2 linked regions of the Homo sapiens genome follow. The protein of the gene in region 1 interacts with the protein of each later gene in a pairwise test. Each region holds a gene or a part of one and is shown in the gene's direction. Other genes may lie near its edges.

Region 1 (15,775 bases):
AATTTTAAGAATAAAATCATTATGGACCTACTTAAAACTCAGTACAGAAAACTCACTTAGTTGTACTCTAAAAACGATAGGATTCTATGGCAGAAGTTCTTGCCAAGGAATGCATGCGGAAGTGGCATGTACCACTTCCAGACCATCATGGTAAAGAAGCAGGTGAGGCTTTTTCACTGTACTTCTCCCGTTGTCACCTGGAGGTAGAACATCTATCACAGGACTTCTTTTCTTAGAAGCCCTAAGAAAAGCAGAGCCATATGATATAGTGTCCTTGAGTTGAGAATTAGAGGAGAACTTCTTGCCAATCAGGAGCGTGTAGTTATATTTTACATGAGCCAGAATTAATATTTAATTATTTAAGTATTATTTCTTAATTATTAAATATTATTTCTTAATTCTTAATATTAAGAATTAATATTAAGCCATAAGATTTTGTAGTAAATCTGTTACCACAGCAAGTATTACCCTTACCTAATATGGGTGTTGTCTGTTCTCAACTTTTTAAATCTTGCTTCTTTCTTTACTTTTTGCAAAGCAAAACTCAAAGATGCCTTAAACAGGCTGGGCACGGTGGCTCACGCCTGTAATCCCAGCACTTTGGGAGGCTGAGGCGGGTGGATCATCAGGTCAGGAGATTGAGACCATCCTGGCTAACACAGTGAAACCCCGTCTCTACTGAAAATACAAAAAATTAGCCGGGCGTGGTGGTGGGCGCCTGTAGTCCCAGCTACTCGGGAGGCTGAGACAAGAGAATGGCGTGAACCCGGGAGGCGGAGCTTGCAGTGAGCCAAGATCGCACCACTGCACTCCAGCCTGGGTGACAGAGCAAGACTCCGTCTCAAAAAAAAAAAAAAAAAAAAAAAAGCCTAAAACAGAGACTTTTTGCACAAAGTGGGTGATCAATAAATGTGTTAAGATAACATTGATTTTTTTGGAGTTCTGAATCCTATTGCTTCTTTGAAATCTTTGTTTTAATTTAAAGATATATTCAACTGAAACATATGGAAATGTAGGACAAACCTATGAAAACTGCTCATTACAAAAAAAAAAAAAGCCATGTACTTTGAAAGCACTGCTCTTCTTCCTTTCTTCCTCTTCCCATACTACCAGATCTCCTTAAGCTTCTGCCATGAGGCTCCACCTTTGAGAGAGTCATGGTGGTTATCTCCTGAGGAAACTTCTGCTTCTTAAATCATCTAAAATGTCTTGCTATTTTTATTAACAAACATTTCAACTTAAGTTTCACTTTTTCAGAGAGGCTGTTTCTTACCACCCATTGATCACCTGGTTGCCCAAAACAGAAACCTGAGATTTACCATCCCTGTCCTTCACTTACAGGTTTTGACAAAGAAAGTGGAATGTGAAGGGTACAAAGGTGTGAGTGGTCATGGTATGTCCTAGAAACAAGCACTTGAGTAAAGAATGTATGAGATAATTTGGGGTGGATTGAAATCTTGTAAGTTGTAATACAGCCTCTTATTTAGTGCATTTGACTTGTCTTATTCATGTCACAGTCGTTTATTTTATGTGTACTTCTCATCACTTCTCTCCTCTGTCTAAAACCCTTCAAAAATATGCTCACAGCAACAAGAATAAAATCCAAAGCGTTCATATACTTTAAAATATTCTATAATTTCTGCATTTTCTAAACAGCCCTGAACACAACTGGCTTGCACATTGGCTTCCTGAACTCTCCAACTGTCTGCAATGCTCCTTTTTTCCTTGTCACAAAGCAGACTTTCACTCATCTTTTCAGCTCCCAATCAAATGTTGCCTCCTGCACAAAGCCCACCTGTAGGCAGCTTTCCACCTCCACAGTGATAGTTAGAATCCTTCATTAACTGTAAGCAGCTCCCTGTAATGTAACCTTTACTGCTCCTATTTTGCTGCCATGTGAGGGAGAGTAATTACATTATTACCGTCCCAAAACCGACTAAGTAGGATTTATCTCTGCATCCTTAGTGCTGGATCCAGTACTTGATACTTCAAGAGTGGCTAGATGTATTTATTGAAAGAAATTATAATGATAAAAAGGATATTAGCGAAATCACAAAATGAAAACACAAAAACTCAGGGAATAGTAACATGAGGAGCTCAGCAAAAACCTTCTTTTGAACAGACATCTTTTCAACTCATCAGAATTATCGAAGCAATCATTTAAAGTCTCTGGAAATTGACTGAAAGGCTTGTAACACCTACCACTCTACCACCATCACCTACCTAGTTGTGCACCTACCCCAATATCTGCATTTTTTTTTACATGTTAGTTGCTCTCTTGAGACCCTGAGCTTCTTAAAGGTAAAGGCTTTATCTGGCTTAGACAAAATATAAATGCCTTATCAATACTCAGCATTTATATTTTGAGTGAAAATATGACAACATTTTCCATTGAAAAAAAGATATGTTTTTAAAACAGGAAATAACACCATAATACAAACTAAAATATTGAAGGTATTTGCAAAGTTCTATGAAAGAAGAGATGAAAAAGCAATCAATCTTGTTTGGATGGAGTAGAAGAGAAGAGAGTAGAGTAGCCAATGATGATGATTATGATGATGGTGGTGGCCCCTACCATTATCACCACTGATGGAGCCTAGCCTCTTCAAATACATTTTCTATCATTCTCTCCTCTAGTCCCACCTCTCTATCTCACAGCACTCCTTATCATTTCTCAAACAGTTCAGGATTTGACATAAGCTTTTGTGTTGTTTTATGATAATTTTGATTAAGATATATTTATATGTGTATTCATGTAGACATATACTGTTGCAATACAAAACCTCTTACTGTAATTTTTTGTCAAAACAGTTTTGCAAAACTCTATTCCAGAACAATAGATTCTTACCTTTGGTAGATCAGAGACTTCTTTGAAAATCTGGTGAAAAAAAACATTTGCAATATTTTGCACACAATTTCAGAGAGTTTACAAACCTACTGAAACTCATTCAAGAACCCCCTAGGGACCTAGGAACTTCAGCTTCAGAATCACCCCGAAGGCACAAAATGTGCTGATTATCACTGAGGCATTGATTTCACCTATTAACATACACAGTTCCACCAAATGAGAGAAAAGGGCACCCACTATACCTGGGGCCCTCGACCTCCAGCAGTCTGTTGGAGGGAGAGAAGATCACAAGTGACCAAAAATGTGCCTCAGGCCTGCTTCTGTGGTTACAAAAATATATATAGCAAAAGTATAAGACAGAAAATGGAAAGAGTTTACCTCGGGCTGAACTAATAATGAGTCACTTATTCCTGAAATATAGTAGTGTATGAAATAGATACTACTATACCTGGGCTTTGGGAAAGTACCTTGTAGCTCTGTCTCACAGTGGATATACATGACAATTTTCTTAATTACACATGTAACTACTCACCAGGAAAAAGTGTAAGATATGAGCAGAGAAGAACAATTCAGAAGAAAAATTCTACTAGGAAACACAAAAATAAACTTTAAGCCGCTTATCCCACTACCTCTCACCCACCCAGAAAAAGGGAAAATCAGTACTTGGAGTTTTAAATGATTGAAAATTGTGGTCCACGCTTAGAGAAGAACAACCAAATCCACTTACCCAAAATAAGCCACCACTAATCAACAGTTACCATGCAGCCACTGTGGAATTAATAATTCCTAAAAGCCTTCAAGGAACAAGAAGATAAATGTTTAAGAAGAGGAAATCCAGATGAAGGCACCATTCTTTGAGAAGAGCCACCCATCTGTTCTCTTTCTTCTCAGCTTCTGGGGCTGCAGCAATAATGTGGTTTTAAAAAGTCTTTGTTTCCTCCCACAGAAGTAAAGGGTACTTCACCTAAACACACACTATTTAAGTGGCCAGTGGGGACAAATTCATGGAAAGAAGGACCTCTCTTTGCTAAACTATTTATTTTTCAATCAGCACATGGTAAGGAAAGCCTTTTTGAAATGTCAATTAAGGGTCATAAAGCTGAAATCACGGAGCTGCAGAAAGTCTCAGGTGGTCCCTGGGATTCTTTAACTGAAGTCACTGCTGCCATTATCATCAGTAGTTCTGCTCCACTCAAAGACAAAAGTCAAGCACCAAATGGCCAGGTAAAGTGGGAGCTAGGAGGATTTTCAATCAACTCGCTCACACATAAAAATAAGTCATCAAAATGCTCCTGGAGTGCCACTCGCCTCTGCAGTAATGTGCACCCTGAGCAGAAATCCTAGATTCTGCCTTCTTTCTAGAAGTAGAAAAGCAGTCTAAGTGTTTGAACCAATTCACAACAGAACTTTCTATTTGGTCTTCTTATGAGATGAAAAATGTTTATGAGCAGGAAAAACATTGCCCTGGACTAAAGGTCTCCTGATGAAATGAGTCAATCTGTTAAGAAATATTTCTGTCCACAGCTCTGTACATGGTATCCTTGGCCTCCATGTACCTCAGAGTGTAAACAACAGTGTCCAGAGGCAGAATGAATGATGATAATGTAGGTCTCTTATAGAAGACCTGTTTTCTATTGAATTCATTGGCTTGTGCTTGAGGTAAGCAGTACAAGCACAGACATATAGACAATGACCATGATGAGGTGGGGGTTGGGGGACACAGGTGGCAAAGACCTCAGATTAGGAAATTCTAAGCACGATGGAGGTAACAGGGATGTCAATATAGGAAATGCAAACCAAACCCATGGACACCTGCACACATGTGTGGTGAATAAAATACTGTTTATTTCATAGATAGTATTGTCAATGCAGGAGAGTTTCATGACAAGAAGGGTGTCAAACAAGAAGCAGTCTAAATAGCATATGTGCTCCTTTTGTACCTCTGTGACACTGTGGTTATTTAGACCACTGTCATGATCAGGCCAATGCAAAAGGCACCACACGCCAGCTGGGCACATGCCCTCTTATTCACAAAGACTGTGCACTCCAGGAATTCCCAGACAAATACACAGCAGTCAATGGTGGTCAAGATGGCAAAGATCATTATTTGTAATTCAAAAGATAAATGCTTGAGGGGATGAATACCCCATTCTCTATGATATGCTTATTTCACAGTGCATGCCCATAAATATATACACCTACTACATACTCATAAAAATTGTTTTAAATCTTAAATAAATTTTTTTAAAAAAGAAAGAAAGAACCCAGAAATTAAAAAAAAAATGACAAAGACCAAGAAAATCTCCTGGTTCTGAGCTATGAGACTAGAAAGTATTGTAGAATAAGGATGAGTGTATAAAGTCACTGAACTAACCAACACTCTCAGGAAAACATACATGACCAATGTGGGTGAGACTCAAGATGATGGCATTCCCTGCTGAAGTTAAGATGTGGATGACATCATTCACAGAAGCTGGAGACAACCAGCAAGGTGAACTTTGTCAGCTTCTGTGAGGTTCTTTCTTTGTATTTTGAAGTTTTAGGGATAACAATAAAATAGATCAGCATAAGAAAACTCTTGTGCTGCCATGTTTCTGTCATGAGCAGAAACATGGCATAGTTGACAAGATGACAAGAGTAGCGCAAGACAGCTCTAGCCAAGACCTCTTGTAGCTGCACGAGCAAGGAATCTGCTTCTGCATCTTCAGTGCATGTATTCTCTATCACTGTGGACTGGAAAATATATTCCTAGACACAGAGAAGGGAACTTTTAAACATACTCAAGATACAGAGTTACACTGAGTCCCTGCTGTTACATTTTTCTTCTTTGCACATCTCCTCCCAGAAGACTCAGGTATTATGAAGGGATTGTGAACAGCATGAAGATGGTTGTGGCCAGTGGGAGTCTGAATGGTAAATTTTATTTAAAAATTTATATTTAAAAAATGAATAAACATTAATCTCAGCAATGAAATCTATATTTTATAAAACTATAAAGATGGGTTGTTCAAAAAGAAGTGTAAGAGTGAAGGGATGTCAAGAAAGATAAAGACTAAGATACAGATATGGTGACATTCCAGAGAGCAGTTTCAGGTGAATTCTGAACTTAAAAGTGAGATTTCAGTGAGGTAATATGGTCGAGGTGTCTCACTAAACCTAAAAGTAGAAGATAAAAAAAAACTTAGCAGAGATTTTCTTTTATAAATGAACCCTGAAATTAGGAACAGAGAAATGAGATCAAGAAAAGACTCTTGTGTATCAGCATGACCTGGAAAGTGACTGACAAATTTGTGAAGCTGCCAGAATTGTGAAGGGGAGTTAGGAGTTCACAGCAGCCTGAGCCTGGCATTTAGAGTCTGAAAGAGCTACTTTGGTAGAAAGGTCAGTCATAATCTCAGGTGGACACTGATTTTTCTCTGTTGTTGGCTGAAATGTTATTAGGTAGGCAACAAAGACATGATAGCCACTCTGTCAAGAAGAGACAATCTATAAACTGTGTGGGAAATATGCATTGAATCCCAAGTCTCCTGTGGAGAATCTTGTTTCTCTCCTTTTGTTCTTTGTCAGAATTACTGAACCTTAGGAAACAAACTCCCTTCCTCTTTCTCCCTCCATCATTCCCTGAAACTTGGCTTCTGACATGCTCACTTTATGAAAATTACTCTTTCAAAGGTTACGACTGAAGTTTTTATTGCTAAATCCAGCATGCATTCAACTTAGATCTCTCTGATGCATTTAATACCACTGGATACTGCTTCCTGGACACTTACACTGACTTGGTTTCCATGACACCACACGCTATCCTCTCTGCCAAACATAATTTTTTGTCTCCCACCTCCCTCCCCACCTGCCATTCTTATCTTGCCTCTAACACCATGAATGTGAATGTTTCCTCAAGTCAGTGGTTGGCTCCCTGACCTTTCCTCTCTTCTCTTTTCCACTGAAAGACAAAATTCATTTTTGTTTCATTATCATTTATATGTTGATTTCTCTGAAACCTGTATTTCTAATTCCAAGTGGCCGTCACATATTACAAATTCTCCAAGACCTTTCTTACACATAAGTCATACTATCATTTCAAATTTAGCATTTGAGGAACCAAGTTTACCACCTACCCTCCACCTCCTCCAAGTGAACATCCTCTCAATTGTCCTATCTGTACTGGCAGCACCATATTTTTTTTCCACATGATTTGCAGTAAGAAATATGGTTCCATATTCTATATATATATTTTTAATTCTCATCTTTGTCCTTTTTTGCACTTACAATAAGACCCTGCCATCAGTCTAAGTTGTGTATCTTTGGTTTTATCCAACCACATATCAGAGTGATAATCAGTTACTCTTGATGCATGCCTCCATTGCCTCTTTCCATCTAAATGCTCTCAAATTCCCTTACAACTGACAGAACACACAGCAAATAATTCTTTACTGAACACAAATCTTGTTCTACTCAGTCTCTTCCTATCCAGTCTTTCCCATTGGTTACTGTGACTTAATGTCTTCTACAAACACCTGAGGTCTCAGAAACCATCTTTAGGTTATTCTTTAATCCCTCAGGTGATCTCCAGTTATATCTCATACTTCTGCTTTTTTGAAGCTCCGAGTCAGATCCTCTTTCTGCTACTGCTGATGCCTTCTTCCACTATGCTCTCTGAGGGTAAACTTTGTTGCATGCCAATTAATGTAGCCAAGACAACTCTGTTTGTGGCACACAGGTGGACCTGTTTCTCTTCAGCATACTGTATCTTTTCTTCCCCCAGCCTCAACTCTTCCATAGCCATCCAGACAGGAGCCGCCACCTTGACCTGAACTTTCACTGGCAGGATGGCACCCAGGAGGATCCAGCAACAGTGAGGATTGGCTCACTGTGAGGATTGCACCCAGTTCTGAAGACCCAGGATTCATTTTCCTACATCCTGACATCAGAACTTTTCCTTTCTACAATAAAAATAATTCTCAGTTTCCTCTTTGACAACTCTTGAAGTGCAGGCTGTTCTCTTCCAAGGCCTGAGAAGCATATTCTGGGGAAGGAAACTAGACAACAGAATCAGACTCCACTTTTTCTCCCTTTTCCAATTATACTGTAGACCCTACCTTCCAACCAGGGTTTCCTTTTCACAGTGTATAACACAACATTTTCATATTCAACTGCAAACCCTTGCACTTGGCCCCAACAGCTATCTAAAGCCGTTATCTCCAAGCTCTCCCACCATGAGTCTAAGGCTGTGTCACTTATCCCCAAGACCTGTTCCCTAGGCTTATCTCCCATTAGAGAAGACTCTCTTTGATATTAATTTGCAAACCATTTTTTGTTAAGATAATGATTATTTATTTATTTATGAAGAAAACTAGAAGCATCTGGTAAGCCCTGTGTTCTCTGAGTTTTATGGCACTTATTAATTAACATCTGGAAATGTTAGGGAATTGCATAGTCCCTGGGTTCTCAAGAAATGTTACCTTCCTGCTCCTACTTCCAGTATTACCTTATCATATTATTCAATTGTATTCTACTTTTTGTTGCTAATAAACTGTTTCTTGTAAAAAAAAAAAAATCCTCACACAAAGTTGAGTCCTTTGATTCCACAATATGTAACAGTTTCTTTTCATGTGTAAGAAAAATTGTTAGATGAAACCAATGATCTAAATATAAATAAGTCCTAATACCCAGATTCAGTCTAGAAGGGATTCAAGATAAATACAATAATATCTATAATATGAGACAGATAGTGGTAACAGCCATAAAGGCTCTAAAATGATGGTAATAATAACCATCCAGATACTGTTCCATGTACTTTATGTATATCATAGTATCTCATTTATCCTTAGAGAAACACTGTGAGGTAGATAGTTTTATCTTTGTTTCACAGAGAAGGAAACTAAGGTTCAGAGGGGTTTAGTGACTTGCAGAATAGTCAGCCACTAGTAAATGGCAACATTGGAATTCTATCCCAAAGTCTTTGATCTTAACCTTATGGGAAGTACGAAAGAGGGGAAATAATGTATAGTTGGGATATTAGAAAAGTCTTCATGAAGCAGATTGTTTTTTATTTTTTATATTTTTGTATAAATTCAAGGCATACAAGTTTAGTTTTATTACATAGACAGCAATAACATAATAGTGAAGTCTGGGCTTTTACTATAACCATCACCTAAATAAGCTTGAGATTAATGTGGAAGAATGGCTGGAATTCCTAGAAACAGGAAAAGAAAATAAGAGAGAAATTCAAGACAGTATGAAGGCACTGAATAGAAGTAATGAAATCAAGAAAGCCAGGAAGGTATAAAGAACAACAATTAGAGGTGTTTGACTGGAGAATAGGATTAGATTCTGAGATAATAGCCAGGTTAGAGCCAGATTGCAAATGGCATTGGCTTCCAAGCAAATGGTCTGTATTTAATTCAGGAGTCAATAGATGCATAATCCCAACTTTATCACTAACCTATACTGTGCAACAAGCCAGATAAGGCTTCACAACCTGGGATTCCATTTAGAGAAAAAAAGTAGAGAATGGAAACTCCCCAGGGATGAGAATAGGAAGGATACTTTGAACAATGATAGAGAAAGTGTATTCTTGGTGGCAGTGATTGTGTCATTGAAAAGGCTGATTAGGTCTGTGGTGAGCTAACAGAAGAGAGAGTGAACAAGAGGCTAAACAGTAGGATGAGAAACAAGACACCATATAATTCAGGGATGAGAGAGAAAGAAATAATGTGGCTAGAAAGAAGAACTTCAGTTTGATATCTCAGAGGCAGAGAAGGTTTGAGTGGTGGTTAATAAACTGTACAGAGAGAGAATGAAGGAGACATAGAAAGAATGAAGGTGGAGATCTCTGGGGCTGTGAGAGAGCCAGTGACCACTGAATCCCCAGCACCTAGTGTAGTAACTGAGAGCTAGTGAATAAATGTATTAGTGGGGTCATCACCAAAGATGGATTAGATATACACTCAATGACCAAGGACTCAAAGAAGAGGAGAGAAAAACTTGGGGAGATGCTGACATCTCTGCAGGTAGCATGAAGTAACCAGAAAACAAGTCGTAATGAGAAATGGAAAGATCTAGGATAAGGAAGCACCATGATATGCAAACGAAAAAAAAGCACTGAGTAGAAGTAGCAGAAAAATACTAAGCTTCATGGGGACAGAAAGTTTATTCTCCAAGTCCCTCTTTCCCCTTAGCTTTGCCTGGATGTATTACTTGATGTTGAATTAGTCAAAGTTGAAGGCACTTTTTAGGGTCTTCAGCAGAAAGCAGAATCCTAGAATATCCTACAAATACAAGACAACTTGAGAACTATAAAAGAAAGAAAAGGCCTTGTTCCCATAGCCCACAAGAGGGCTGAGCTCAGCGATACACTCTGTGTGGCTCAGGAGCTTCTGGCAGAGCACAGAGCCATCAGAGAGGGGGCCCAGAGAGCAGAGAGAGGCTCTGCTGACATGGCCAGCCCAGCGCCTCATCCCATCCATAACCCTGCTGCCCTGCAATGACTCTCTTCCCAGCAATAAAATCTGGGTCACAGGAGTTGGAGCTCTAGCCATCACTTGTCTCTAATAAATAACTCCCATTGATTTTCCAGCTCAGGGCTCACCACTCCTTCACCGTAAGCGCCAGGAGGCAGACCTGGAAAATCACTCACATATTATTGGTGCTCTTCCTCCCCCATCCTCACCCAAGGTGCATATAAACCCTGAATAACCTGAAGTCTAAGGGCATGAATATCAGACGCTAGGGGGACAGCCACTGTGTTGTCTGCTACCCTCATCCTGGTCACTGCTTCTGCTATAACAGCCCTAGGCCAGGAATATGAACAAGCCGCTGCTTTGGATCTCTGTCCTCACCAGCCTCCTGGAAGCCTTTGCTCACACAGGTAAGGAGGTGAAGGAATGGTCAAGAATCATAAAGTGAGAAAATAGGTTGAAGCTGAGATATCTTTTCCCTGCATTTATACTGAAGGTCATTATCTTTCTTTCTTTATCCCGCAGACCTCAGTGGGAAGGTGTTTGTATTTCCTAGAGAATCTGTTACTGATCATGTAAACTTGATCACACCGCTGGAGAAGCCTCTACAGAACTTTACCTTGTGTTTTCGAGCCTATAGTGATCTCTCTCGTGCCTACAGCCTCTTCTCCTACAATACCCAAGGCAGGGATAATGAGCTACTAGTTTATAAAGAAAGAGTTGGAGAGTATAGTCTATACATTGGAAGACACAAAGTTACATCCAAAGTTATCGAAAAGTTCCCGGCTCCAGTGCACATCTGTGTGAGCTGGGAGTCCTCATCAGGTATTGCTGAATTTTGGATCAATGGGACACCTTTGGTGAAAAAGGGTCTGCGACAGGGTTACTTTGTAGAAGCTCAGCCCAAGATTGTCCTGGGGCAGGAACAGGATTCCTATGGGGGCAAGTTTGATAGGAGCCAGTCCTTTGTGGGAGAGATTGGGGATTTGTACATGTGGGACTCTGTGCTGCCCCCAGAAAATATCCTGTCTGCCTATCAGGGTACCCCTCTCCCTGCCAATATCCTGGACTGGCAGGCTCTGAACTATGAAATCAGAGGATATGTCATCATCAAACCCTTGGTGTGGGTCTGAGGTCTTGACTCAACGAGAGCACTTGAAAATGAAATGACTGTCTAAGAGATCTGGTCAAAGCAACTGGATACTAGATCTTACATCTGCAGCTCTTTCTTCTTTGAATTTCCTATCTGTATGTCTGCCTAATTAAAAAAATATATATTGTATTATGCTACCTGCATTTGTTTAGTGCTTGTCATAGTCCCATATCTTTATCTTATGTCTACTACTTATCTATCTACTAATTGGTGTTTCATTGGTAATTGGTGTTTCATTATCCTGAAAACTCCAATTGCCAAGTACGGGGAGGAAAACCTGTAAGTAACTAGAAAGATATATCACAAAGCCAGAGCACTCAATGAGCACAACAGTGGCAATACTTAAAAGCTACTAACAATCATTTTAATGACGATTCAAAATATGTGTGGAATTGTAATCACAATTCTCCTATTTGTTTTTCCAGCTACAAATCGATCAAAAAGGGGTCTGAGGTTGCATCAGGTAGACAACTATAATGATATAAGTAAGCAATAGTTGAGAACCTGACAGCAAGTAATAAGACAGGAAGAATAAAACTAGAAGAAGTCAGAATGAAAACCAAAAAAGTATGAGACTGGGATCATTTTGTATGAAGACAAACATAACTTTATGTCTCAAAAACCTCAGTAGGACTGTACAATGCTTGATTTTCATAATGTTCTCTTGATGTCATCAAAAAATATTATACTCTGAATATTGCTCACATGAATATGCTGTCTAAAATTCTTCCATGGATTCACACTTCTTACAGGACATGATTTAAACCTCTAAATATGACATTGCCCTCTATAACCTGGTCCCAGTTACTCTCTCTGAAATGTACACAGAGAGTATACACAGAATACTCTCTGAAATGGACTTTCCATGTACATTTCAGATACAACTCTTAGCAGAGCAAGCCACATCCTAACTATCACACTGAAAAATAATTGTCAGATGCTATTACTAGTAGTTATTTTTATGGTTATGAAAAGCATGGAACACAGTGCCTGGCACATCGTCAACAGATATAAGTTGCATTCCCAGAGAAGCAAGGATCCCAGAGGGAGTTTGAGCTACATATATGGGAAATAAGACAGGCTTTTCTCACTGATAATAAGTAGAGCATGTAGTCAGTGGAATCAGAAAGATAGCATCCAGAAGCTTCAGGATGGTAACCAATGTCATGATTTCAAACTCATGAGGCCATTTGGCCAGAATGAACAGAGGCAGTCACCAGATATGAAGAAGTAGGATAGAATCTGGAAACTCCATAATGGGACAATGGGGTGGAAGCAGAGGAGAGCAGACAGAACCTGGGAAGATTTGCTGAAGTACTTAAATGGAGCAGCAGGGGCTTCATAAGAACATTTCAACCTCATTTCTGGTGAGGTGGTATGATGGTTTGGATATGGTTTGTTTGCCGCCACCACACGTCATCTTGAAATTTTATTCCCAATATGGTGTTGTTGGAAGGTGAGTCCTAGTGAAAGGCATTTGGGCTATGGGGGTGGGTCCCTCATGAATGTTTTGGTGCTGTTCTTACGGTAATGAGTGAGTTCTCACTCTTATGAGAGTGCATTAACTCTTGTGGGATCAGATTAGTTCTTGCCAGATGTAGCTGTTATAAAGCCAGGATGTCCCTTAGATTTTGTTCTCTTCGCACATGTTCACTTCGCCTTTGAATTTCTCCACCATGTTTTGACACAACACAAAAGCCCTCACCAGAAGCCAGAGGCATGATCTTTAACTTCTCAGCCTGCAGAGCGATGAGCCAGATAAACCTCTTTTCTTTATATATCACTGAGTCTCAGGTATTCTTTTATAGCAACACAAAATGGACTAAGACAAGTAGAACTTACTTAGAACATTGAGTTGGTTAGGTAGACAGGGATTTTAGCAATATGAGAAATTATTAATTTCTGATTGACAGCTCATGAGTTAAGGCTTGCTTTACGCTTTCTCAATATTAACGACCTTTCCATAAACTTGTACTGTGAGTACTAGAAAGGTCTATCTATTCTTGCATAACAGATATTTCTATCATGTTCACTAACACTGTGTTTTGGTTTAACAACCCCTTTGCCTAGGAACCCAAGACAATTTTAGAAATGAAACCAGTGTACTTCCAAGTGATATAATCCATTCATTCAACTATTTATTGAGCAACTTCTCAAAAATACGCCAGGCAATGCCAGGTACTGAAAATATAATATTGAATAAAACAATCATGGTGCTTGCTATTTTAGAATTTACATTCTAATAAATCTGTGTTAACTACATGTGGGTTTCTCCTAACAATAATCAGGCTGTACTGTAATCCATCTCTCACATGTTTAAGCTTTCTTCTATCTCAGGTTGATATCATAGTCCACCTCTCACTTTCCCCTAAGTTAAAGGTATTATTTATTCTTGGTGATCATTTGCAACTACTTGCATAGATCTCAGGATACAGTGTTTGTGACAGGTTTCTTGTTCTTGTGAACCCTCTGCCTCTTAAAATGGCTCTTTTGAACAGAATCCAAAATGACTGCATGTAAGCTCTTTCTTCTATGTTGTCTGTATTTCAGCCAAAAGAAGCACTTATACATCTCTTGTCCCTATAAATTCTAGAAGTCTCAGATGGTCTTAATATAGACAACTCTTTCCTATTTACACAGTGGTTGCAGCTTTCTCAAGTCCTTTGAGTCTCCCAATAGCAAGAGGGATATTTCAAGCTTCCGCAGTGATTCCACAGAAGCCCCCACATTAGGCTTGAGGTTGGGTAAAGAAGTAAAAAATAATAATCTTCTCAAGATACAAATAACATAACCTAATACTCCCTCAAAGCAGCAACAACAGCAAAACAGCAGCTCTCTGCAAAGAAGTTCTTTGGAAAAGTTCCTTCCTATCTCCACATTCTGTCTTCTTTGGGCACCTTGTTCTAGCCAAAAGGTAGAAGAGTTGTAGAGATGGTTCTTAATCATTTCCTTCATGAATTCTTTATTTGAGTGAATCTGTGTATATTATTTTTATCATTAATATCTATCATATTGATGGCTCATTCAAAACTGAAGACAGTCCATTTTAACATAATTTATAATAGAGATGGTGATATGGTTTGGCTGTGTCCTGACCCAAATCTCATCTTAAATTGTAGTTCCCATACTCCCCATGTGTCGTGGGAGGGACCCAGTGGGAGGTGATTGAATCATGGGGGCGGTTACCCTCGTGCTGTTCTCATGATAGTGAGTGAGTTCTCACAAGACCTGATGGCTTTATATGGGACTTTTCCCCCCTTGCTCCACGATCCTCCTTCCTGCCACCATGTGAAGAAGGACATGTTTGCTTCCATTTCTCCATAGTTGTAAGTTTCCTGAAGGCTCCCCAGCACTGTGGAACTGTGAGTCAATTAAATCTCTTTCTTTTATACATTACCCTGTCTTGGGCAGGTCTTTATAGCAGCATGAAAACAGACTAATAAAGATGGAATTTCTGGTAACGTCATCTCGGCATTTTTCTCAGATACAGTTGTTGTCACAACAAAGAAATCAGCAAAAGTCACAGAGGAAACTACTTGAATAATTCAGAATCTATAAAGAAAATGGAAGGATTTGGAGGTGCAATAACCCAGGAACATAGTTGTGTAGTGATTTAATAATTACAGAGATAATCACGCCCTTTCCCATACTTGCCACTAAGGCTGTTAGATACTAGGGGACAAGTAGTACACAAGATGTACAATAAGTTGCTAAAACCAGGAGTCATCTCTAATAAGAAAAGCAATTTTTGAGTCTCTATCTTATACAAGTAACGATCTGATTCTTATTTTTGACTACAGAAAAACAGGTAAGAGCATTTAGCCACATAGCTTCAGGACTGGTTTTAACAGAAGTCCATAAATAATTTTCCTGGATGAGAAGGCTTGCAGGTAGTTTTCTGTGAGTTTTGTGTGGGAGACTCTGGGTGGAGCTCTGAGATTAAAGCAATGAGGCCCCTTAGCTTGGGATATGCCTTAGCTAAAACTTGAGTTGAAGTGGAAATTTAAAAAAAATATTTTATCTGCACTGGATAGGATCAATGTATAGTCACATTTGGAATGCAATGTGGAGACTTTTTAGGTATTCATGAGACTTTGCATTGTTTAGAAATAATAGGTGTCCAAGACCATTCAAATGACAGAAGAAAAAATGAAACATGACCTGAATTGTCTTTAATCCTTATCTTGTCAAGACTAAATAGCTGATTATCATATAAACTAAACTCCATTTGTATTCCAGAATTTTCTATCTCCTTTTCATCTGGCTGGCTGTGGCCACTTTTCTGAGTTTAACATGGGAGATACCTCAAGAGACCAC
Region 2 (17,289 bases), on another chromosome or scaffold:
TAAGATTATTTATCTGGAATACATTAGAATCAAAGAATTGGAATGCCTTTCTATCTTAGACAGCTCAGGCTCCTGTTACAGAATACCATAGACTTGATGGCTTAAATAACAAATATTTATTTTTCACAGTTCTGGAGGCTGGAATTCTGAGATCAGGGTGTCAGTATTCGTGGGTTCTTGATTAGGGCCTTCCTCTTGGTTAAAGAAAGCCGTCTTCTTACTATATCTTCACATATCTGGGAGAAAGATCTTGTATCTCTTCATCCCCTTTCAAGGTGATTAATCCCATCATGAGGACCCCACCTTCATGACCTAATCTAACGTTATTACCTCCTAAAGGCCCCATCTCCAAGTACCATCACATGGAGGATTAGAGTTTCACCATAATGAATTTTGGAGGATCATGTCCACTCATAGCAGCATCTTAGAGACCATATAGTTTAATCAATAAGAATTATATTTCTAATAAACTTTTAAAAATACATAGTCTTACAATTGGAATATTTTAACAGGAGAAGCTGAGATTTTAAAAGGTAACTGTACTTGTTTTAGGTTATACAGATTGTTAATGACAGAGTTAGGAGTAGGATCCCCATCTCCTGAGTCACAAAAATCATGGAAAATTTATGTTAGAGGCAATACCTATGTTTATAGCCTACCTGAATAGTACTTTGGGGTAAACACACTTACCTTAATGCAGTACACACACCCCAGGACCTAGCAACTTCACAGAAATTTATTTCTCGTATGTGATCCATTTTCTTTCTTTCCATCTTCTAACAATCATAATTATATACTTCATATTCTTAATGTAAATAGTTGAATCTGTTTCTGCTTTTTAAGTCACTTTTCATTGCACAGCACCATTTGTTAATTATTTTTTCTATGTCCATAATCCTTAGTAAATGATCTCACAATCTGAATTTTAAAATATATAACAACAACAAACACATAGTGCTTATTTTATGACCAGGCACTGTTCTAAATGCTTTAGATACATTAACTTTCTTTATATTTACTCCTACCCTTGGAGATAAATAGCCTTCATTTGATAGAAGATAACATTGAATCAGAATCTCAGCATCCCACAGCCAGCGAGTGGTAGAGCTGGACGTAACCCCAGTGAGTCTGAAAGTAGTCTCTACATTATTACATTTTTGGTGTTATAGATGAAATAGATATGCATAAATACAAATTATGATACAAGTGTGTAACCAGTTAGCCAAACTTGCTTATCTGTATAATGAAAACATAGGCTAGAATGATACAATAGTTATTTGACGGAAGACACTCGTGTTCTAAGTTTAGTCTTTAATTTCAGCTTAAGGCAAAATATAAGAAGTTATTTTCTTCCTCTTAGAGAAAATTAATCCTAATTTAAGAAATAGTAGTACTATAACATATTTGTGAACAAACTTCAGATATGTAAACTATTGTGAGCATTAAAGATGTCATTTGGAAGCTTTGATTTGAAAGAGACTTGCATGACAGGTTTAACCCTGTAACACACGTTGTTCAGTGCAACTGAATGTGAAATTTTGAGAATCAGCCACTTTAGTTATAGGGAATTTTCAATGTTAGAAAGTTAGTCTTTTACATGAAAAAAAAAATTCTAACTCAAGTCAATCCACTTAGTTCCACCACTGGGGCAAAACTGAACAAATTTAATCACTCTTTCTTATGTCTTAGCTAAAATTCACTAAGTCTTTCTTACAACCATGCTTTAATATGATGTGGTTTACAAATCCTTTTTGCCTCAGCCACAGTACACAAAATAGCTTCATATTATTATTCTTTCTCTATAAAAATAGTTTCCAGAGCTCTTCTTAATTCTCTAGATTTCTTCGTATTTCAGTGTATTTTGAAGATCTGGTCTTCCTTGATGTGTGACTGCTTCATTTCTGTTAATGTAATATAAGCTAATTTTTTAAGCTTCCTTAGCAACTAAGTCATGCTGTAGACTCAAAAATATCCTCAGAGCTTTATTGTTTGAACCCCATAAGCTTTGTTTTTCTTCTCTATATTTTTTAACTTTAATTTGCAATTTTGGGTTTGCATCCATTAATTTAATCCTATCATGCTACCTTTGCCCAAAATATCTGCATCCCAATTGTTGTGGTATTCTAAAGATTTAGATGGCCAACCTAGGAATGCATAATTTGTAAAACACAGTAAGTACAAAATATATATATTTAAGTTTTTGGTGAAAATATTGGATAAAGGTACACCTTTAATGGATGATACCTGAAGAAATTTTTTAAAGTGATTTACAGGATTCCATGGTGTTCACCTCTAGAACTAAATAGTTGCATGACGTACCATAGAGACACTTTTATATCCTATATGGTTTGCCTCAACTGTGATCCAGTAGTTAGAGATGCCCAAAGAAGCTAATATACCTTAAATGAAACAGTACATATAGATCTACTTTATTTCATAAAAGCAAAAATTAGTAAAGTTTCTTTAGTTTATTTGCCAATATTTATGTTTCTTTTTAAGTTTTAAGCTAAATATTCAAAGTTTTATTAACCTAAAAAAGAATGCAAGATTAAAGGGCATTTCTACTCAAAACAGAGTAATTGGTTATTTAGATTTTGCTTAATTCAACTCAATTCAATTATTAAGCAATTCCTAATGTGGCAAAAGAGTGGCTGTGTACCTCTCCCCAAAAATAGCATATATGAATCAAATACAGTGTAAAATAAAAAATTTCAAGAATATTAATCAGAAATGAACCCAAAACAAGTCCTTTTTAAATACTTAGTTTATAGTAATTTTAATATTGCAAAAAGTGTTTGAAACCTCACAAAGAAATGGAAATAAATGTATTCTTTAAAGCCTTTTTTTTTTCTTTTGGTAACTTAAAAATACTTGTTTAGTGGAATGGCAGGAAACATTTTAATTGCTTATTATATTTGAACTGTATTAATAAATTGTGCGTTCATGAAGTTTTGTGAACTGAGAGAGCAAGTGTGAAGGTAAGAAAGTGTTTAATTTTTTTAGGATTTTATAACGAGGGTCCATTTGGGGGCATCTGATGTTGGAAACTGAAAGATGATGTAATCCCATGAGGTCTCTGAGGCTTTTCAACAGAGGTCTTCGGATGCCCAGGGCGCCACCCTGCTAGAGGTAATGCATCAACTTTGTTTAATAAAAAGGACATAAAATATCCAGTAAAGGTTAAGAATTTTTTACTGTGTGGAACAAGATCTTAAGAAGAGACATTACCGTGGCCTGGCATTGAAAATATTGGCAGTCAGGCTGAAACCTGGCTTTTTTTTTTTTTTTTTAAATCGGGGGAGTGGATCATTACTTGTTGAGGACAGGTAGTTAAAAGTGAGGTATGAGCTACTTTCGGGCGCTCCCCCCACCCCCAATTTGTCCCCCCAAGTTTGTGTGTGTGTGCAGGCGTGCTCTTTTTACTGTCAGAGAGTTACATGTCTCTTGACTAAAGTCGAAATCTGCCGCATTTTGTGATATGGATTAATTCTGATTGCCAACATGTGAAACAAAAAGGGCACTGTCCTTACCAAGGGACGGCTAGATGATCCATCTGCCAACATCAATATTTGGAGGGAAAGCTTAAAATATGCTGTTTTTCCAAGGGTTAAACTTTAAAGGGGTGAAAACACAACTGATGAAATGTTAGCATCAAATCGGTTAACCACTAACTCCTTTCCATATTCGTCGTCGAGGCTCTTTTAAGTTTCCATGAGAAGCGAAACTTCATTCTCTTTGCTCAGAATAGAGACTCCTCCACCTATGCGCGTTTAACCACAGAGTTGTTCTTGATTGTAAGGGACTTCGCCCACTTGGTTGAAGTGGAGAGCCGGTCCTCATTCCAGACGTCCCGCACGGCAGTCGCTCATGGCTCCCTCCAGGCCGGGAGCCAGGAAGGTGGTCCTTCACCGAGGTGCGCACCAAGCGGCGGTCCACCCAGGCAATGGGGTGCACCAATTTGCCTCCAAAAATTTGCTGCGCACACAACCTGTTCACAGTTCCTGATCAGAAAGGGCTAACGAGATGTCTGTCTACAGCTGTCTCTGGGCGAGGGCGCAGGCTTTGGGAAGTGGTTCAGCGCGATCGGGGACACCGCTTGCAGCCCTTGGTCCTGCACCCCTAGGAGGGGTGTCCCACAAGCTCGGCTTCCCTTTTGCGAGCCACAGAGAGCTTTTTGTTCCGAAACTCTCATTACGACAGATAGTATTTAAAACTCATCAAAATTCGCTTCAGAAATCTGTGTTGCTCGGGATAGGCAAGACAGGTTGGGAGGAAAAAAGGAGTGAATATTAATCTTTACCTTTCTCTAAAGTTCTTTGATGATTTTCGAAATAAAGGGGCTGGCGCTCTCTCCTCCCTCTTTTTTTCTCTCTGAATAATCCTTGATGTAATAAATGTGTTTGTGTTTTTCCTCTTTCTGTTGAACTTATAAAACACCATGACAGAGGATAAGCTAGATTTCGAGACGTTTTCATGGCCACAATGAGATGCATTCTAAGCTCAACACCTTGGGGTCCAAACCCTAGCCTCTTGTCCTGATATAAAAGGTATCAATGGGCACGGAAGGGGCACAGTAGGTGGAGAACTTACGGGAGGCCAATCTACTTCACTCCTTCGACTCTCTTTGATTTTGTATATTGGCTATACTCTGGTCGGGTTTGATTAATGACCACGGACTTCACATTTACGTTGCATAATTCCAGTCCAAAGGAGAAATATCCATGATTTTGTCTCAGTTATCTTTACTGAGATTTTTCTTTAAGGAAGTCTTTCCCTGAAATGGGAAAGCTCAAGGAGTGAATACGCACGCACATCTTTTTGAAAATAAGCAGCCCTGTCTTTCAGACATACCTAGTAACTCAGCAGGAAAAAAATGTATTTAAATATATCGAGTAGAAGTTTAACAATTCACTTATCAAACAAAATAGTGGAAAAACGTTTTAGAGACATGATTAATAGTTTAATAGTGAAATACCAGTCTATGAATTGAATACAGTTTAACTTACTTATGCACTTCTATATGTGTCATAGAGGAAGTCTAGCGTTAACGGTCTTTATTATGTTCAGAACTTCCTGGAAAAATGACGACAGCCATAGAAAGAAATAAAGGTGACTAGATTATTGCAGATAAATTATTTTTAAAGTTTGGAATAAAATACATTTTATAGTAAAAGCAAACAATGTCTATTGTAATGTGCACACATATGCTAGATAAATCAAGATATTTGCACCAAGGTCAAGGAGTCATACTGTATTTTTACATTTAAATTGGATCCTTTAGGAGAACAGAAGTTTATTTCTCTCTCTTTTAAGAAAACACAACTGTGTGAAAAACTATTATTGAAACACATTGGTATTCAGAAACAAGTATCACTTTTTGAAAAAACAGAAGTTTATGAAACACCAAAACATTTAATAATATTATTACAATAAGTGTAAAAATTTAATTCATCATACTGGACAGCTTTGCAGCAGCATACTTTAAAGACTTACAACATTGATTAACATCTGTGTAATTTTTTTTAAAGGCAGAAACTTCAAAAATCTCACAAAGTTACACTTTTGTCTGTAGGTGTGTTTTCTGGAGTAGATGATGGTGGATTGGGCATATATTTTAAAGAAAAGCCTAAATATTTCTTTGTGTGTCCAAATATTTTTATTTTGATGAAAACCTCTTGAGCTGCTTTGATGCAAAATATATTTCAGTATCTGTTATGTCTGCAGAGCTGTGGGAAGGCTGAAGATGAAGGCAGGGAGGGAAAACAGCAGCAGAGCACACAAAAACACGAGGCCACCTGGCATCTTGCCATGCTACATGACATTCAATTATTTTAGTACTTTTTCATGAAAGTTTCTCTCCACCAGCTCCTCCCCTCTTCAGACCATTGCTCTTCTACATTTGGCATAGTTCGCCTGATTCAGCACACATTTTTTTCCTTGCTCTACTTACAATAAGCCTCAAACTCTCACTGCAAAAAGGAAGTGCTAAGACTAAAATCCTAGCAATCCTATCTTGACATTCCCACTATTAGTATGTAAGTGTGACATTTCTCTCAATAAGTCGAAATCAGAAGAAACTAGAGTGGTCTATACATTTATTCTACCACTGCTTTAATGCTGCATATGTAAATATTTTTTTCATTTCCCAAAACATATTTTCAAAGGGATGACTGGCTTTAAAAGCAGCTTTTAGTCTGTGAGGTTTTTTTTTTCTTTTTTAGTAAAATGAGTCAAGATGCCTTAACCTGCGAATCCTTTATCTGAATTTTACTTTCTAATAAAGCACTACTTTGGGGGTGGGGGAGGGTCAAATACTCATTTCAATGGACTTTCTAATAATTTTAACTTCTTTGATTATTTTAATTCTAGGCTCTAAATGGGAACTAAAAAAAAAATACTTTAAAAATATCCCAAATCACTGTTTGGGAGAGCTGCCACCTAACAACAACAACAAACTGGTCGCAGGAATAATATTAGATGTCACTTCAAATGGTAGCATCAGTCATCTTTATCTTCACAAAATAGCTTCCCCCTCTCTGTTAGGATCCCATGGTGCCAGAGGAATGATCAAGTTTGCTCCAACACATCTCAATTACTAGAGGAGAAAGTTTTTCAGAGAGGCTGAGACTTGAATCTGTAATAGCCTTGTTAACCCTCATTATTCCTCCTGATCCCCGCCCTACACCTCACCCACAGGCACTGCTCCTCATCCCCATCAAGAAGATGTGAAGAAGCATCAATACGCAGTGAAGATCCAAAAGTGCTGAAATCCTAGGATGTCCTAAATTCTGTTAGGTTTTAAAAGAAATCAATGACTCCCCACCTCTGTTGCTCTCCTACCTCCTCTCTCACCCCACCACTTCCTGCAAGTGTTAGTGCCCATCGAGAAAGTTCAGATCTGAAGGAAGTAAATCAGAAAAGGATGCACAGCAGCTTATTCTAGTTAGATATCTTGACTGACATAAAAGAAGGAAAGCTGAATCCTGGGTTTATATCCTGAATATGGAAAAAGATGAACAATACTCTCAAAGGCAAAATAAGTGGGTAAAGAAGAAAACTGATGCCTGGGGTTGATGGGCTGAGGCCCCAGGAGATAAAACCCCAACTAGAACCTGACCTAATAAACTGGATCATATATATATACATATATATATACATATATATATGTATATATATATGTATATGTATGTGTGTGTATATATATATATGTATATGGCGAGCTGATTACCCCTCAGAACACACTTGCCCCTGAGGCCTGGGCCAAGCTGACTTGCTGGAATTGAGGAGGACTTTTAAAAGCTGTGGTGGTAGGAGCCAAGCTGGATCTGGACGGCTGAAAGCATTTATCAAAGTACTGTGGCCAATTTCCAAGAAGGCTATCCTAAAAGCATTGGTGGAAAAAGCCCAGGTAGATCTCAGGGAAAGTGAGACCATCTCCAATGTAATTTCTTCTCCCTTCTTGTGACTTTTAGAAATTATTGAATTATTATTGTTTTGATTAGTATTATTTTCAATGTATTATTAATGCCCCTATCTCTAGAGCTGTGTCATAACCATAAACTCCATCTCAACCTCTCAAAATTCATGTAATGCAGCTGTTGGCAACCAAATACCCAGCTTCTTGCCAAAAACTGCAGATTAAACATTCGTTATGGGAGTTTGCCATTAGCTGTTTCCTCTGTTATGGGCACATGTGGTTACATGTCACAAAACACACGGGATTCTGTGTAGTATATTTGAGTTTCCAGGGAGCTCCAGGGATATTATGTTGGTTTGGTGACACCTTACACCCCACCCCTTCAACCATTACCATCAAAAGTGAGTTTTGGTAATGGGGCAGAAACGGGTTTACTAGACAGCTCTTGTCCTTGGCTACGCTGTACTTTTCTCTATGAGTTGGACCTTTATTGGCATACAAGTATCCTAGAACTTGTATCACATGTCTTTCATTTAAAAGACACGTAATGTTTTTCCGGAAATTTAGGGCTTTTAAGACATATATTTATAAACAAGCTGACAGAGCTCTACAAGATAACTTGGTTGATAACTAGTTTGTATATTTCCTCAAGTCAGCAATAGGTGTTGTTGTTGCTGCTGTGAATTTTTGTAAAACATATTAAACGACCATTTTCTTATCTTTCCCGTGTTTAGTAGAGAAAGTCAGACTTTCAGGATACCTGAAAATAAGAAGGTACCGAAGGGGATAGGAAAGAATCGAAAATGGCTAACCCAACAGGAGTGAGTGAATAACGCAACACTCAACGTTTCCACAAGGCTGCCCGGGGGCCCGCTGGAAAGTGTCCAAAGAACGCAGAGCTGAGGCTACTGCTCACGCAAGGTCGGGATGCTACAGGACACTTTAAGAAGAGCGTTTCAATGGCTTCTTCCGACACCTCACTCTCTCCCCCTGGGCCTGACCTCAGAATGCCAGGTTGTCTGGTTTGGAGTTCCTGCGGCCCGACGCAGCCTGGCTTCCTGCTGAAGCTCAGTCCCTAGTGCTTTTCTTTGACCTTGCTCCCCTGAAATTTAACAATCTGCAGTTGGTTCTTGCAGCACTGCTCTGGAGAGAGTAATAATAATACAGCAGAAGCTAGTTAGTCCCAGGAATAGTGTCCACTTGCCTGAATCTGAGTGCGCGCTCAAGGCCACACTGAGCGCTGCGCCATGTGAACTAAGCTTGTGCGCCTCCTTGGGAGAACAGTCTGGGTTGGACTTTGGCCGGGCGAGCAAGGCTGCTGCTGCCAGCTGATCTGCTCGGGATCCGCCGGTCGGATCTGGGTGCTTAAGGCCGACCCTGCCTTTCGCGCAACGCTAAGGAGCAGCTCCGGGGTGCACAGCCCTCCCTGATTGTTACTCTCTGGCTGAGGCCTGGTCAGGTCTCGAAGAAGGTCTCACCAAAGAGGCGTGGGTCAGCTAAGACCCCCGCAGAAGGTGGAAACTCTCAAACCCATCAGCATGCCCACCACAGCTGGGCTTGGCCTCACCATCCTCAGAGTCCGGGCTGCTCGGCCTGCCCGAGGCCTCACCATAATTGCCAGACTTGTCTGGGGAAACGCGACGGCCGCTGTGAGTGCCAGTGTTGACAAAGGCTGTGTCAGGACGTCTAAGCAGAGGCCTACCTGGACCAAAACCTGTCTGGCTTATTTTCACCAAATTTGCTAGCTTAGGGTGCCTGACGCAAATGCGATTTTGTGCCCAGGGCACCGAACGCATTTCCCCCAAGCGCCGCGGGCTCCTAGGAAGCCAAGAGTCGTGCCAAAAGTCACACAGAAGGGCTTTCAACCTAGCAGTGCTGTCCTGCCTGCCCTACCATCCCCTCTGGTGGAAATGGAGGCCTTGGACCTGTCCGCGCCCAGGACGCCGCGCCGCGAGTGCCCGCAGCTCCGCGCGCTCACCACTCACTCCCAGAGCGCTTTTCGGAGTAACTCCACAGCAACTCTTTAAAATTAAAAGTAATTTCTGTAAAAATATGCAGACATTCCTCTTCTTCATAAACCCCTATTTGTAACAATCCTCACTTTGGCATTAGAGTAAAAGCCTTTCAAAGGCACTGATCCTAACGGGTTTTCTTAAAATAATTTGGGTCTAATGATAAAATCGTGGACCAAAGGGAAGGGTGGCGAAGAGGGTGTAGGGAATTGGTTGGCATTAGTATAATGGCTTCATTGCCTCTTGCTCGGCTTCTCTCTCCCACCCATCGCCACCGCGTCCACACTCCGCCGCATTCCAGAGAAAAAGAAAAGGCCACGGCCTCGTAAAGCTCCCAGCTGGCCCGGACCCCGAGCTCCTCCCGGTTAGAAGCCGAAGCGGCCCCTCTACTACGGCGGCTGCGATTAACAGTTGCCAATGCATCTGGTTCCTTGGGCTTCGGATTAATGTGAATCTTCCACGTAAACGATTTACGGATGAAATAAAAGCCTTTTAGAGCAATATTTCCTTTCAAGTTCTTAAGACGCCTCTAAATCTTTCTGGTAGTGAGTGGCCGGCATGGGGGCGGGGTGGGGACGGGTGGCTCAGGAAGGCGCAGGCAGTAGGGAGTGGAGGTTTAACTGCTTTGCGATCTCACCAAGATCTTCCGAAATGCCAGTCCACTGTCACGGCGGCAATGAATCTGGGTGTCAGGGGCTCGTCTCTCCTGGCATTTGTCTGAAATGGAGCTGTCTGTCTGTCTATCCTAGGCCTGGACGCCCTCTGCCCGGGTAAGTGGGGAAAATGGGGGTGGGGTAGGGGCGGAGGGGGACCTGGGGTGGAGTTAGTCGCCCGCCTATTTTCATATTCATTAGAACTGGGAGGCTGCCCGAGGAGGCCAGCTGAGTTTCAAGATATAAAAGCAACTTCGGGTGCTCCTTTTCCAGCCGGGACGTATTAAAGGGACCGGAGCGGGGCAGTTCCCGACGCCGCAGCGCTCGCTTTCCCTTCCCTCCTCTCTGGCCCTCCCTCCTCCCACCCACTGGCTCCCTCCCCCAGCGCTCTCCAGTTTCTGTGCCCCAGGAGCTACGCGACAGTCTTCCAGGATTATGGAGTTTCTGAGCGAGAAGTTTGCCCTCAAGAGCCCTCCGAGTAAAAACAGTGACTTTTACATGGGCGCAGGAGGTCCTCTGGAGCACGTTATGGAGACGCTGGACAATGAGTCCTTTTACAGCAAAGCGTCTGCAGGCAAATGCGTGCAGGCCTTCGGACCCCTGCCCCGCGCCGAGCATCACGTGCGCTTGGAGAGGACCTCGCCCTGTCAGGACAGCAGCGGTGAGTCGCTAGCGCCCCAGCCGGAGCCGCCGCAGCCCTTCCGCAATCGAAAATGCAGGATCGGTCTGATCAGGCAGGGAGGGAGAAAGGAGAAAAGTGGGAGCGAGGGACCTGGAAGGTGGAGGAAGGTAGTGGAAGGTGCTCGCTTTATGAAGCGGTGTTACTGCTGCTGCAGCCTTTGGGGGCGGAGGGCGGAGGGAGGGAGAGATCCAGCACCGGGTTGCCTCTGAGCGATTCTCCTTTCGCTGTAGGGTCTGGTCGCCTACGGATCCCTGAGTCCTTCTGTAATATTGGTTCCTGGAGTAAACTGATAGGGCGCTAAATAGAGCGTAATTGAGTCAAGACAGAACGCTTCCTCTGCGAGCCCGCCTTGCAGTCCGGGCGGTAGGAACTGAAATCGATCACAGCTCGTTAGAGTACGTCACTGTCGTCACGAGTAGGGAAAAAAAAACCGGAAAACAAAAACAAAAAACAAAAAACCCTTTGAGCTCCTTTAGGTAAAGATAAATCTTTTTAATTTTCCAAGACGTGGCGATATATTTTCAAAGTTTGAGGATCCCTAGATTTCTAGCGTGTGTGAATTTGTAATTTCTGCTTTTTTTTGCGTTTGCAATACAACACGCGTTGAATGTTTGTTAAACACTAAAGCACACTAAATAGCTTCGGGCAAACCATCCCCGGCCTAATCACTCATTCCCAGATTCTACGTTTTGTATTTTTATGACTTCACATTAAAAGTCACCTAAGGAGTCTTTGGAATGCTTCTGGGTGAAATCTTCAACTTTGAATGCCCAAGTATCTCCAAGTCAAAATGTTATCAAAACAAACCATCTATCTTTTCTATCTTGTAACCTAATACTAACCTATTATTTCAGATCGCGACAGCTAAAGCACGTTTACAATTCCAAGAGAACTTCTCCTTATCATTGTATATATTCCACAGTTAAGCTATAAGGGGCGGGTTGCTTTAAAATAACAAACGAATTAAGTGTGAAATATTTACAACAAGCCCCCTGCCCCCTATTTTATAGAAATTCAAAATCTGACAAAACACTGGCCTGTAGAAGCTCATTTTCTAAATATTTTGAACACAAGTTTTTTTCTTTTATTAATCTCATATTTAACTAATTTTATTTAACGTTGCAAGTAACTTTTGACTAAGGGTAAATCAAAAATAAAGGTGCAAATGATAGAGAAAATAATCAGCTAAGTCGTTTCAGTCATTTATTTAGAAAGATTCGAGCGTATACTTTTTGTTATTCTTACACTGAGTTGTTGGTTTTCTGGCTGCGTTTCAGACCTGGTATCTGTATTTGTGGAATTCTTAGGTGCATGCCTAACGTTATTTGAATTGACAGGTCTTTCTTTAATGATTCTGCAATGTCTTGTATTGACTCTGGATGGACTTGATCATAATATTTTATTTTGAATAGTCGAGAATCCAAAATAAGAGACATAATTGATGCGTTATCAACTTTTAAACAAATATCACACTATTAAGATGAATTATAACAAAGAAGTGTTAAGGAAGATGAACATAGGCAGTCATCCGCTTAATTTAGGAGAGATCCTGTCTTTCTCTTGAGATGCCCTTAGCCTCTCTGATGCTTCCCCTCCCCCATCCCTAATTGCTGCAGTTCCCCCTTTAATTTTGCCCAAGGAGATAGAACCGTTTGTTAATCAGTCATGGCTCTTCTTTATATTTGGTTTAACATCACATCTTCGTTTGCATGAAAACCGTTAATTTAAAAAATTTGTTATATATATATATAGACAAATTATAGTTGTATATATTTATGGGGTACAAAGTAATGTTAAGTTTTTTTAATGCAATGTGGAATGATTAAATTACGTTAATTGGCCATCACCTCAAATATTTGACATTTTTTATTATGAGAACATTTTTGAGAGTTACTCCGTTAGTGACATTGAAATGCACAGTACTCAATTATTAGCTATTGAAGTTATATGCGCATTAAACTTGAATATATTTGTATAATGATGAAAAGAGTTGTAAAAATACATTATGGGGGTAATTTTAAAAAAAGAAACAAATGAAAAAAGTATGATCATCTATTGGAAATTATTATTCTGGCTGGTTTGACTTTACTTTTTAAAAAGTGCTTCCCATTTCACTATGTGCATCCATTGCATTTGTGGGTGTTTGGCATTATATGATATATCTTTGTTTTATATCACACTGCAAGCATGCAATCAAATCTGAAGAAAATTACTGAAATTAAACATCCCTTAACAGAATGCCAGATGTCATGCTCTGTAATGTTTTAATAGCTGTTTTAATTTCTGTGTTTCAGCAGAGAAAATAGAAAAGTTTTCAATCCCAAAACTTATCTAACTAGCTAAGCAGAAATATGAAATGTTTTAAAAAGAACTGCGTAAGTTTTTAGGTAAAAAAAAAAAATGCTGCTTAAATCTAATTTCCGATAGAAAGCGTATTCAAAATTTGGCATGAAATTTATTTTGTCAATTTAGTAGATTATTTTTGAAGAAAAAGTGTAAATGCAGACATGGATATAAAGTTGAAATATTCAAAATTTAGTGGAAATAATGTCACATCTGAAATCTATCATCAGTACGTTTTACGTGGAGGAGGATAATAACTTTCAGATATTAGTACAGAGGTATTATTTAAGATTAAAATATATTTTCTGAGCCACATTAGTAGCTTGGTTTTATCTGCTGTGAATAAAACACATGACATTAAATTTGCTTCAGTTTTCAAAAATCATGGACACTTAAAGTTTCTTTCATGAAACACCCAGATCATCTTTTAATTCGAGTACATGAATTTAAGTAAAAAACATGTGCATAAACTTATAAATCCTGTAAAATAGAACTGCGGATTTTGGCAGATCATAGCAGTTGCATGAACACATTTTAAAATGGTATTTAAACCTGTCCTACAATGAATTAAGTATAGAAATGTGGTAATTGAATTAATACTAGCACAATAAATTATTAATAGGCCAATTTCTTGATACTCTCAATTACTTCTACTTATTGATTTAATTGAGATGAGTTTCACAATCCTGAGAACTGTTGTTTTTCCTCCTCTGGGTACAGTGAACTATGGGATCACTAAAGTAGAAGGACAGCCCCTTCACACCGAACTGAATAGAGCTATGGACAACTGTAACAGTCTCCGAATGTCTCCCGTGAAAGGGATGCAAGAGAAGGGAGAGCTGGATGAACTTGGGGATAAATGTGATAGCAATGTATCCAGCAGTAAGAAACGGAGGCACCGAACCACCTTCACCAGTTTGCAGCTAGAGGAGCTGGAGAAAGTCTTTCAGAAAACTCATTACCCGGATGTGTATGTCAGAGAACAGCTTGCTCTGAGGACAGAGCTCACTGAGGCCAGGGTCCAGGTAGGAGCCAAAAAGAGGCCTTGATGGATGGGATAGGAAAATAAATGGTGTTAGAATAATTGAATAAGTGCATTTTGCCACAAAGAAACAAACTGATTCCCTAGCTGAAGATGAGAAACGGAGTAATATATATGAATATATGTCTACTAAAATTATTTTTTAATTGCAAAAATTTTGACAACTCACGCAATATGTAAAACAAAAGAACACAAGTTATTACAGAGACATAAAAATTAACAATCATTCAAACATAACAATATGATAATATATCTCTGATTTTCAAAAGCAGTTTTTAAAGGATGAAAAGCAGAATCATGACTATTTAGTAATTGGTATATTTATTTGTTTTTTTTTTTTCGGTTTTATTAGCCACTAAGGTTCTTTTTTAGATTATATATCAGGTATTTGTAAATTATTTGTATAATAGCCCATACATCTAGAAATTTCTAGATTTGGAGGCATAATAAAAAAAAAAACAATCCCACAAATTCCCAATTGTTATGTATACCATGGAATGTTTTCACTATGGATAATTAAAAACAAGATCAAATAGTGCTCATTTACAATTTTATAGTCCTAGTAGTTGTCAACATGTAAATATTCCATTATAATGGTTAAAGTCTAGATAAATCATATGAATTTTGCATAGGCAATAAAAATAATGGCTTTAAAGTAAATTTTTGTGTATACTCAATTATGTTTATAAGATATATTCTAGTTATTAAATTGGATGATCCAATATGCTTAATTTTTAAAAATAATTTGAGAAAGAAAAATCATACCAGGTAAAATTTTACCTCTTAGGAGTACTTTATTTTGACTACATTTGATATTCTTAAACTATATTTTACTAGTTTCCAAGTAGTAAGAGTTTAAAATGCAACAATAATTCAGGATAATGGCCTTGGTCTTTGTGTGTGTTCTGACTCCTCTACAAAAGTATTGATTTTTGCAATTCCCATAAACTGCTAAAATGGGGGAATGAATAAAATAGTGAAAATTTTTGTTCTAAATCGAGTAACGGTATTTCTTCTTAAAATTGTAAGGCTCTTACATCATTAGAGACAACATCTGGTGGCACACGGATAACAAGCAGCAGATTTTTACTTGAGTTTGTGGAAGCAAATGGTTACTTTATCTTGGTTCAGGAAGTAAATATGTAGAAAGTTCATGCTAACAAAGAATTTTAGAATTGTCGAGTATTAACACCCGCTGTGTAAGTTTGAGATTTTTGTCTTTGTCTATATTTAAATTAGTTATACTTGTAACCATAAACAAATATGTTTGCACACAGAGTGACCAACTGTACATAATGCATCTTTTCCCCTTAACATTCACCAAGTCTTGATTAATTTTTGTCTGAGAACATGCACAGAGAGCCAACTTGAACTTAATTTACTCAGGTCGTTCTCTTTCCTGCTTTGCACATAAGAGTGGTAACTATTACTCATTTTAAGGAAATTGTCAAGTTCTTTTTGTCAATGGAAAAAAAAATAAAACCCAAAAACGTATTACTAAATTCCCTTAGTGTGTTCCTGGGGCTCATCTGCGGAGACAGCAAGAAAATTTGATTTGTTTTTTGTTGTTGTTGATGTCTTGAGCCTTGGCATAATGGATAATATGCATTTATCAGCAGTGTACTAAAACTATAATGAACATGTAGCTCTCTGGCTCATTTCAATTGCTGAAAACTCTGCAAAGTGCCATCTTAAATTTGTAATGTGTACTAAAAAATTAAACTGAGTATTAATATGTTGCCATAATGGTGAAGGTAAAGATATACAAGATTAGAATTGAGTATGAAAAAGAGTGAAAATTTCAAGTAAACTTCAACAAAAGGCTTTTACAACTTGCATTTTTTATATTTGATTTCTAGCCTTTTTCCTAAATATTTTATATTCTGAACATAATTGTGTGAAGAAGACTAGATTCCCAAAAGCTACTCCTATAATGTTCATTTAAAAACATCCAAGTATATATATTGAATATAATCTTCTGCATCTCCCTTTAATATTAAAGTGAAGATATTGGAATATTACAGGTATGAATTAATGAATATCCAACCTGCTGAGGAAGATGGTTCTTATAATAAATACTTCTAATAGGTAATTAGAGAAATTGTGGAAGATAGCTTAGTGACCTTAGCTGCCACAGTAACTGATAGACTTTCTTGACACTTGGTTCTATCTGCCCTATTTCTTATATTATTTCCATTACCTGTGCTTTAAATTAGAGAAATTACGTAAAGATATCCGAGCATTTTCATAAGGGAAAATAAGTTGCATAATGTATGTAATAAGCACATTCACGTATTTTAAAACCATAGTTCAACTTTAGATGATTCCTTTTTACCTATAATTCTTGTCATGCTTATTATAATATGTAATCTCATTTTTTCCTATTTCTAGATAATCATGATGTTCCTGCTGCTGCCATATATTTAGGTGTAATCTTTATGTTTAAAATTTTAAAAGATTATGTAGGTATGAGCACAACTGAGAAGAGCTTTCACTTTTGTGATATATTTTAAAGATAAGTTTTAATAGACTCAGATATTAATTTGCTTATAGATTGACTGAGTTTACGTTACGGCATATACATCTTCCAGACTTGCAGCATTCTCTTAAAGGAGACTTATCCATGACAATGTGGAGATATATGGAGTATTCAGGATCATATAATCTAATTGCTTTTTGTTTTCCATAAATGAGAAAACAGAGGCTCAGACGTATCAGATGTATTTCCCGAAAGTCTCCTGCCTCTTTCTATTAAATTATTTTGTCTCATGGGAAAATCACTTACCACATCAAGATACAAGAAAAAGTAAAATCTGTGGATCCTTTTCTAACATAAATACATTTCTTTTTACGTAATTTTTTTAACCTGGTTTACCTTTCTTGTTTGATGTCTTTTAACATCACATTTGCTTTATCAAATATTCCTTAGCTAAAATTCTAATTTTTATTAAATAATTAGGTTTGGTTTCAAAATCGAAGGGCCAAATGGAGAAAAAGGGAACGTTATGGCCAAATACAACAAGCGAAAAGCCATTTTGCTGCCACCTATGATATATCAGTTTTGCCAAGGACTGACAGCTACCCACAGGTATGCTAAACTACACAGAATACTGATCAAGAAAAGGATATTTGGTTTGTAT

What was found.
Region 2: the proteins of APCS (region 1) and ALX1 interact in binary tests that used the Homo sapiens proteins (3 or more experiments, as listed by UniProt).

What each region holds. Positions count from the first base shown.
Region 1 is NC_000001.11:159,577,271-159,593,045, forward strand, and holds APCS (serum amyloid P-component precursor), read left to right. Parts: upstream 1-10,555; 5' UTR 10,556-10,651; coding exon 10,652-10,715; intron 10,716-10,830; coding exon 10,831-11,438; 3' UTR 11,439-11,595; downstream 11,596-15,775. UniProt on the Homo sapiens protein: Can interact with DNA and histones and may scavenge nuclear material released from damaged circulating cells. May also function as a calcium-dependent lectin.
Region 2 is NC_000012.12:85,269,745-85,287,033, forward strand, and holds the start of ALX1 (ALX homeobox protein 1), read left to right. Parts: upstream 1-10,475; 5' UTR 10,476-10,517; coding exon 10,518-10,743; intron 10,744-13,827; coding exon 13,828-14,132; intron 14,133-17,108; coding exon 17,109-17,237; intron 17,238-17,289. UniProt on the Homo sapiens protein: Sequence-specific DNA-binding transcription factor that binds palindromic sequences within promoters and may activate or repress the transcription of a subset of genes.